Homo sapiens: one gene and its partner. The protein of the gene in region 2 purifies or fractionates together with the protein of the main gene of each other region. This does not show direct contact. Each region holds a gene or a part of one and is shown on either strand. Other genes may lie near its edges. The genes, in order: FLNC and NAT8L.

What was found.
Region 1: the proteins of NAT8L (region 2) and FLNC purify together in Homo sapiens (affinity purification with mass spectrometry, with the first as the bait; one large-scale study listed by BioGRID). This does not show direct contact.

Annotation. Positions count from the first base shown.
Region 1 is NC_000007.14:128,847,294-128,851,095, forward strand, and holds part of FLNC (filamin-C), read left to right. Parts: intron 1-403; coding exon 404-571; intron 572-651; coding exon 652-775; intron 776-1,267; coding exon 1,268-1,424; intron 1,425-1,499; coding exon 1,500-1,689; intron 1,690-1,887; coding exon 1,888-1,911; intron 1,912-2,037; coding exon 2,038-2,285; intron 2,286-2,682; coding exon 2,683-2,781; intron 2,782-2,868; exon of another isoform or gene 2,869-3,090; coding exon 3,091-3,190; intron 3,191-3,509; coding exon 3,510-3,650; intron 3,651-3,802.
Region 2 is NC_000004.12:2,065,820-2,069,621, forward strand, and holds the end of NAT8L (N-acetylaspartate synthetase), read left to right. Parts: 3' UTR 1-3,270; downstream 3,271-3,802. UniProt on the Homo sapiens protein: Catalyzes the synthesis of N-acetylaspartate acid (NAA) from L-aspartate and acetyl-CoA. Promotes dopamine uptake by regulating TNF-alpha expression. Attenuates methamphetamine-induced inhibition of dopamine uptake.

The DNA of each region.
Region 1 (3,802 bases), on a different chromosome or scaffold from region 2:
TGCCCGGGCAGGTCATGTCTTCAAATATTGTATGACTTGGGACTGCTGAAATTGGAAATTTTTTCCCTTATCTAATTTCCCATCTTTTTATTATTTCAGCCACAGTGTCAGAAATACATTTCATTTTTGAAAACATTTTATTTTCACATTTTATTAATTTAGGAAGGCCTTCTCTTCCAGGCCTGGGACCCACATGAGTGAGGTTTGCCCAGCCTCAGTCTGCAGTCAAGTTCATTTATTCTTGTGTGTGTTTTCTTAGCAAGTTCCTAGCCATTTTCCCATGTTGGTCTGGCTTCCCTGTGGGCATTTCAAAGGCAGGGAAGGCCTCCTCCTCCGAGGCTCCTCAGCATCAGGGGGACCCATCAGGGCTGGTGGGCAGGGTCTAATGTCCTTCTCCTCACAGGGAGCCCGTTCCGCGTGCCAGTGAAGGATGTGGTGGACCCTGGGAAGGTGAAGTGCTCAGGGCCAGGGCTGGGGGCTGGTGTCAGGGCCCGGGTTCCTCAGACCTTCACAGTGGATTGCAGTCAAGCTGGCCGGGCGCCCCTGCAGGTGGCTGTGCTGGGCCCCACAGGTATAGAATGGCCGGGGCAGGGAGGAGGGAGGTGGGGCGGGACGCCCGGAGGCTCTGCTGACCCTGTGCCCCTTGCCCAGGTGTGGCCGAGCCTGTGGAGGTGCGGGACAATGGAGATGGCACCCACACTGTCCACTACACCCCAGCCACTGACGGGCCCTACACGGTAGCCGTCAAGTATGCTGACCAGGAGGTGCCACGCAGGTGAGGACCAGCCCTGGGCTCCTGTGCTGCGGCTGAGCTCTGGGGTGCTCCTGCTGGGGTGGCACTCAGGATCACTGCTGGAGTCCCCTGGGAGAGCCTCTCCCAGCTCTCAGCCTCGTCCAGTCTCGCCACCCCATCCCGCTCTTCCCCGGGGCTCTCTGCTGTGAGGCTTTCCTGCCCCAGGAGCTTTTACGGCAAACCTAGCGCCTTAGGAAGAGTGCAGGAGGCCTGGGCCAGGGCCTCCTCCTGGACCCTCCCACAGCACCTTCCTGGGGAATGGAGACGTACCCTGGCTCTGTCGAGGGAGTCCCAGAGTGCCCCCACCCCCAGACATGGAATGTCATCGGCTTCTGGGAACTGGTCCCTCCTCCCTGCCCCACAGTCCTCCCTCCTGCCCATGTCTATGGGGAGGACTCTGGCTCAAGATGAGATCACCCCCCACCGCCCCGTCCATGCCACCCAGCCAACTGTTTATCCCTTCTGCTCCTCAAGCCCCTTCAAGATCAAGGTCCTCCCAGCTCATGATGCCAGCAAGGTGCGGGCCAGCGGCCCAGGCCTCAACGCCTCTGGCATCCCTGCCAGCCTGCCTGTGGAGTTCACCATCGACGCACGGGACGCGGGCGAGGGGTTGCTCACTGTCCAGATCTTGGTGAGTCTCTGTGCATCCCACCCCGCAGGTCATGCTCCAGGCACAGGCGGGCCTTGACCTCTGCTTCTCCCTCAGGACCCCGAGGGTAAGCCCAAGAAGGCCAACATCCGGGACAATGGGGATGGCACGTACACTGTGTCCTACCTGCCGGACATGAGTGGCCGGTACACCATCACCATCAAGTATGGCGGTGATGAGATCCCCTACTCGCCCTTCCGCATCCATGCTCTGCCCACTGGGGATGCCAGCAAGTGCCTCGTCACAGGTGGGTGCCCACCCGCTGCCCGTGCCCTGCTCACCACCCAGCCCCTCAAAGCCCCTCCAGAACCCTGGCCTGGTCCCCAGGGGTCTGCTGGTCGGAGAGCACACATGCCCTAGCCCTGGCCCCTCCCTCCCTCACCCCCGCCCAATGCCCCAGCCCACGTTGAGCACCGCCTGGCCTCACACTCTTCTCTCTTTCCAGTGTCCATTGGAGGCCATGGCCTGGGTGAGTGCCCTTTCTCTCCTCTTCTTGGTGTGGGCCAGGGTGGTTGGCGGTAGGGGGCGGGCAGCGGGAACAGAGAGGGCTGGCTCCAGCCCACCAGCTCCCTGAGCAGGATCTCCCGCATGGCAGGTGCCTGCCTGGGCCCTCGAATCCAGATTGGGCAGGAGACGGTGATCACGGTGGATGCCAAGGCAGCCGGTGAGGGGAAGGTGACATGCACGGTGTCCACGCCGGATGGGGCAGAGCTCGATGTGGATGTGGTTGAGAACCATGACGGTACCTTTGACATCTACTACACAGCGCCCGAGCCGGGCAAGTACGTCATCACCATCCGCTTCGGGGGTGAGCACATCCCCAACAGCCCCTTCCACGTGCTGGTAAGTTCTGTAGCCACAGCAAGACTAGATGGCTGGGGAGGGGGGCCTGGCCCTTTTAGCAGCAGCAGGGATCCCAGATAACTGTCCCCAAGGAATCCCACTTCTCTGAGGGCTCCTGGGGCCAGAGTGCTCCAGGATGGAGCCTTAACTTTCCCCACAGCACCCCCGAAGTGGGAGGAGAGCATGGCCCTGCCCCCTGCCCAGTGCTGTCAGCTGTCTCTGGAGGAACCCGCTGTGCTCTCCACCATCCCCAGCTCCATCTCCCCAGAGGCTGCCCTGCAGGAGGATGAACACCCAAATTATCACCCAGCATTTCAGGTTCCTGGGCCATTCTCTGAGTCAGCCCCTAGGCCTGTGAGGCTGCCACACCCTGTGCCCCCGTGCCTTGCCTCCCCAGGCGTGTGACCCCCTGCCGCACGAGGAGGAGCCCTCTGAAGTGCCACAGCTGCGCCAGCCCTACGCTCCTCCCCGGCCCGGCGCCCGCCCCACACACTGGGTACTGCGCCTCCCACCAGGCGATGTCCTCCTCCTCCTCCCCTTCCTTCATTTCTTCTCTCTACTCCTCTGCAGCCAGGGCGGGGACATGGTCTGGGGGCCTCTTGGGGAGCAGGCAAGAGTTAGGCTGGGCAGATGGAACCCCACTTGGGCACAGCACTCCTTCTCTTGCAGCTGACGCACCTCTCCTGCCACGCTGGTTTCATGATTAACTACCTTGTTCTTTCCTCACTCTCCAGCTTCAGTCATAGCATGGGTCAAACTCCTGGGCCTTCCCCAGTCACTGACTGTTCCCTCTCACCTGCTGCAGGCCACAGAGGAGCCAGTGGTGCCTGTGGAGCCAATGGAGTCCATGCTGAGGCCCTTCAACCTGGTCATCCCCTTCGCGGTGCAGAAAGGGGAGCTCACAGGTACTGCCCTGTGGCTCCCAGGCATGAGGGCTGAGGGGAGAAACCCTCTTCCAGGCCCAGTCCTGTGTCTTAATGATGAAAACAAAGGCCCAGAGAGAGGAAGTGAGCTCTACCCAGGGTCACACAGCAAGTTGGGCAGAGCCAGAACTCAGGTGCAAGCCATCTGTCCCCAGTTCAGGGCTCAGGCCACTGCCACAGGCTGTCTCTTGATGCCTGGCTTCTCGGGTGGCAGCAGAAGCACTCAGGACCAGGCCTGGGACAGCAGGGAGGTTGCAGTGGGGGAAACCAGGGTCTCCACGTAACTGTGTCTGCCCTGCAGGAGAGGTGCGGATGCCCTCGGGGAAGACGGCACGGCCCAACATCACCGACAACAAGGACGGCACCATCACGGTGAGGTATGCACCCACTGAGAAAGGCCTGCACCAGATGGGGATCAAGTATGACGGCAACCACATCCCTGGTGAGTTAGGGGCTGGGCTGGGCTGGGGCTTGGGTGAGAGGAGCAGGCCGTAGCTTCAGTCCTGCCTTCCCTCTTTCAACAAATATTTATTGAGCACCCGCTGTGTGCAGACACCAGGCGAGGCCCCAGGGAGGCTTATACCCTGGTGGGAA
Region 2 (3,802 bases):
TGTACAGAAATCGGCACCCTATTTTCTTGCAGCTCAGATTTTGTTAATCTGGAATATACAGACAGACGTAAAGTGTTTTAGCAAAATGGAAACAAACAGTTGTGCCTTTTTCCTCTTTTGGTTTGGTTTGGGTTTGGCCTGGGGCTGGTCCCAGTTGGTGCGGGGCATGCTGGGGGCAGGAGGGGCAGGGCGGGCCAGGTGGAGTCAGGTCTTGGGGGTGTCATGTCGGGGTGCTGCCAGCGTCCCTTGGTCCTGTGCCTTTGGAGCCTCGGGCTCCTGGGGTGCAGGGTGCTTGGGGGTGGCTGTTGGAGCCCACCGACGCCAGGGCAGGGCCTGGAGGCCCAGGGACTGCCAGTGTCTCCTTGATATTGATCCTAGCAGATCCCCCTCCTGGGGGTTCTGAGAGTCCTGGGCAGTGTGGCCTTCTCTCATTCTGGTGGCATCTGCGCCCGTGAGTGACCTCTTCCTTGGCTGCACTGCCCTGTGGGTGGTGAGACGCTTGGCCTTTTTTGTTGCTGCCAGGACTTGGTAGAGATGGCAGGAAGGGTGTGCGGGGTGGTTGTGTGCAGAACCCTGCCGCCCCTGAGGTGAGCAGAGGCACTGGTGTGCCTGCCAGGCTGGGGCGGAGCTGCCCGGAACCCTTGCCAGGCCAATGTGTAGCTTGGTGGCGCCCTTGAAGGCCACTGGGGGGTAGGTGTGTCCTCCCCCGGGGCTGGAGGCCGGGTGCCTGGTGGGTGGGCCTGACCTGGCCCACCTCATCCCTCCAGCCTGGGATCTCACTGCTCTGCACATGTGCACTGACGTGAATTTTATACGTTTGTAGAAACTCTGATGTAACTTCTTCTACCTCTGAAGCGCCCTCCTGGGCCCTGCTGTCACGTGGCTGGTGCGGCTTCCCCGAGTGCTGGCCCCCTGCCCGCTCCCCATGGGCACCCACCACTCAAACTCTGCGTGGTGAGGCCCGGGGAAAGCCAGGCCGGGCCCTAGCACTGCTCAGGGGCCTGGGGCTCCTGGGATTTCTGTGTGTTTGGAAGCCTCTGTTTTTGGAGTGGGGGGCGTGGAAGGCGGGAGGGGCTGACAGTGCCTGGGGCCAGAGCTGGGCGAAGGAGGACATCCTCACTGGACGAGCACTGCAGGCCTGACGAGAGGCTCCGGGCAGCTGAGGGCTGAAGCGCCTCGGGATGCCCCACACTGCCCAGAGCCACGGGTCTTGCTGTGCTGGGGGTGGGGTGGCCCCAGGCAGCTGCCACTGCCCAGGTGTGAGTCGCTGCAGACCTGGTCCCTGAGGGTGGGAGGCCTGCTTGTGCTGAAGCTGCCATGTGGTCTGGCCCCCAGAAGGGCTCCTGAGCGTAGGGAGTTGAGCCCCGCAGCCGTGGCGGCATCTCCTCCTCCTTCCTCCGCCCCATGCCCAGCCTTGCTTCCGGCTGGTGGCATGCCTTGGGGCCGGGCAGCAGGTGAGAAGCTGCCCCCGGAGGGAGGGGCCAAGGGCTGGGTCAGTCTGGCCTGAGGGGTGGATGGCTGGCCCTGGGGGAAGGCTGGGCCTGGGAGGCCCTGTGGACAGCAGGCCTGAGGCCACGAGGTCCTGGGGCCACCCCTCTCCTGCTCTGGGTGTCCTTCTCAGAGAAGATGGCAGAAGGCTGCAGGCCCTAGAGGGGACGACGGGCTGGGGACGCCCTGAGCTTCCTGGCTGTGTGGCAGGTGCTGGGGAAGCTCTCTGGGCCATAGGGACCTGGCTCCCCTCTGAGAGGCCCGCCTGCCCTGGGGCACCCAGGGCTGTGCTGGTGGCCTGAGGCTGGGAACTTGGGTTCCTGGGCTCTGCTGGCGCCTGGGCTTTGTGGGGGCCGAAGGTGGTTGCCCCGCCGGGCAGGGGGCTGTGTGGGCCCTCGTGGGGCCACCTTCCTGTCAGTGCCCGAGGGACGGTGGGACAGTTGCCCCTGCGCCAAGGGAGCCCACTGCCATCCCCCGTGGGCTGGCGCTGCAGTCGCGCACCCTGTGTTGCCTGCTGACTTGCTTATGTCTGTTTGGAAGCTGCTTCTGTTTGGCCACAGGCCTGTGTTCCTGGGCTGATGGCCACAGAGCTGACACTTGGGGTTTGAGTTCCAGACTTGCAGACCCTGGGATCCGCTTACTCCTCCGCGCCACGGCTGCTGTGCTTCCAGAGGTGGCGTGATGCCTCCCGGGGCCATGGTGGGGTGAAGGATGGCGAGCCGGACATACCATTGTTGGATGTATTTTTTTTAAAACAGCAATAATTAGCCATTTTAAAGGAGGGATGTACCTGTGTGTGTGCATGTGCACGTGTTTGAGCGTGTGTGTGTGTGCAAGTGGGTTCTTGGATATGTGTAGTGTGAGCATGTGTGCATGTGTGAGCCTGTGCACGTGCATGTTGTAGGTGCATAAGCATGTACACGCGTGAGCATGCATGTGTGTGTACACGTGTATAGGTGTACATGTGCATGAGTTGTGTACATGCGTGAGCACGTGTATAGATGTACGTGTGTGTGCGCATGTGTGCGTGTACATGTGTTTGTGTCTTGGGTATGCATAAGCATGCACGTGTGTATGAATGTGCGTGTGTATGCATGAGCACGTATGCATGTGTGATGCGCATGTTCTTGTGTACTTCTCTGAGGGGGCACATATGTATGAGTGTATGAGTGCATACATATGCATATGGTGTACGTGTGTGTACTTTGTGTGTGGGCATGTATGCGTATGAGTACTTGTGTGTGGCTGGTGTATGGGTGAGCATGCACATGTGTATGGATGCATATGTGAGCTGTACATGTAGAGTGTACATGTGTGTTGCATGAGCATGCATGCGTGCGAGTGCCTGTGTGTGTACTTGCATATATGTGGCTGTGCAGGTACCCGGCGGTGGTGGGCTGGCAGTGCCCGGGGAAGCAGGTCCTGCTCACGGCTTCCCTGCTGGGCCCCAGGCCCCGGGCTGAGCCTCCCTGGCCCCTCTTGCCCCTCAGTGGAGCAGGGCCTGGGTGGAGGGCCTGGGCAGCTCCAGGGCAGGTCCGGGGAGGCCAGGCTTGGGGAGCACAGGGGGTGGGGTTCACCTGCTGCTGTTTGTTCCCGAAACTGTACTGTGAGCCCACGGCGGGGGCAGATTGTTCTGAGGCCCCAGATGTGCCAAAACAGCCCCCAGGGTGGGGGCGAGCGAGTTCTGAGGAGAGGGGCTGCGGGGGCCGGGGGTGGGTGTGTGCCCCTCCCCTGAATGGCCCCCAATGCTGCTGTTTTTCAATAAAACCAGAGTTGAAGGCACCTGGCTCCCGTGCTCTCTTGAGGCGCTTCCTGCCCACTGTGTGGCAGGGCTGGCTTTCAGGGATGTGGCCCCACCCTTGGTTGCCCAGTTTGGCCCCCGCCGCCTCCCCCTTCTCCCCTGGCCACCCCCTTTCCCCACCTCGGCTCCCCTACACCTGGCCAGGCTGCCCTGCAGCCAGCACTGCCCCCTGGAGGGAGTGTAATCCAGGAGGTGGGGCAGGGGGGCTTGGTGGCCCCATGGGCTGAGGCCCCTCCCCCAGCAGGCACCCAGCCGGGTGGGCTTTGCCCATTCACTCTCAGGCCTGGGATCCCCCTGAGCAGCTCCTGGGCCCTGCCCTCCCCCAGCTCTGTGCTTGGTCCTGGGTACTCTAACTCCTGGCAGACAGCTTGTCCCCCAGCCCTTGCCCCCGCCCCATTTTTGCCACCCCAGTGGGACAAGGCCCCGCTGCCCTGTCCTCCTGGGTCTGGGGTTCCCAGTTCCTGTGGTTATGTCGACCCTTGCCCTGGCAGCCCCGGCGCCTGCCTGCCTGGC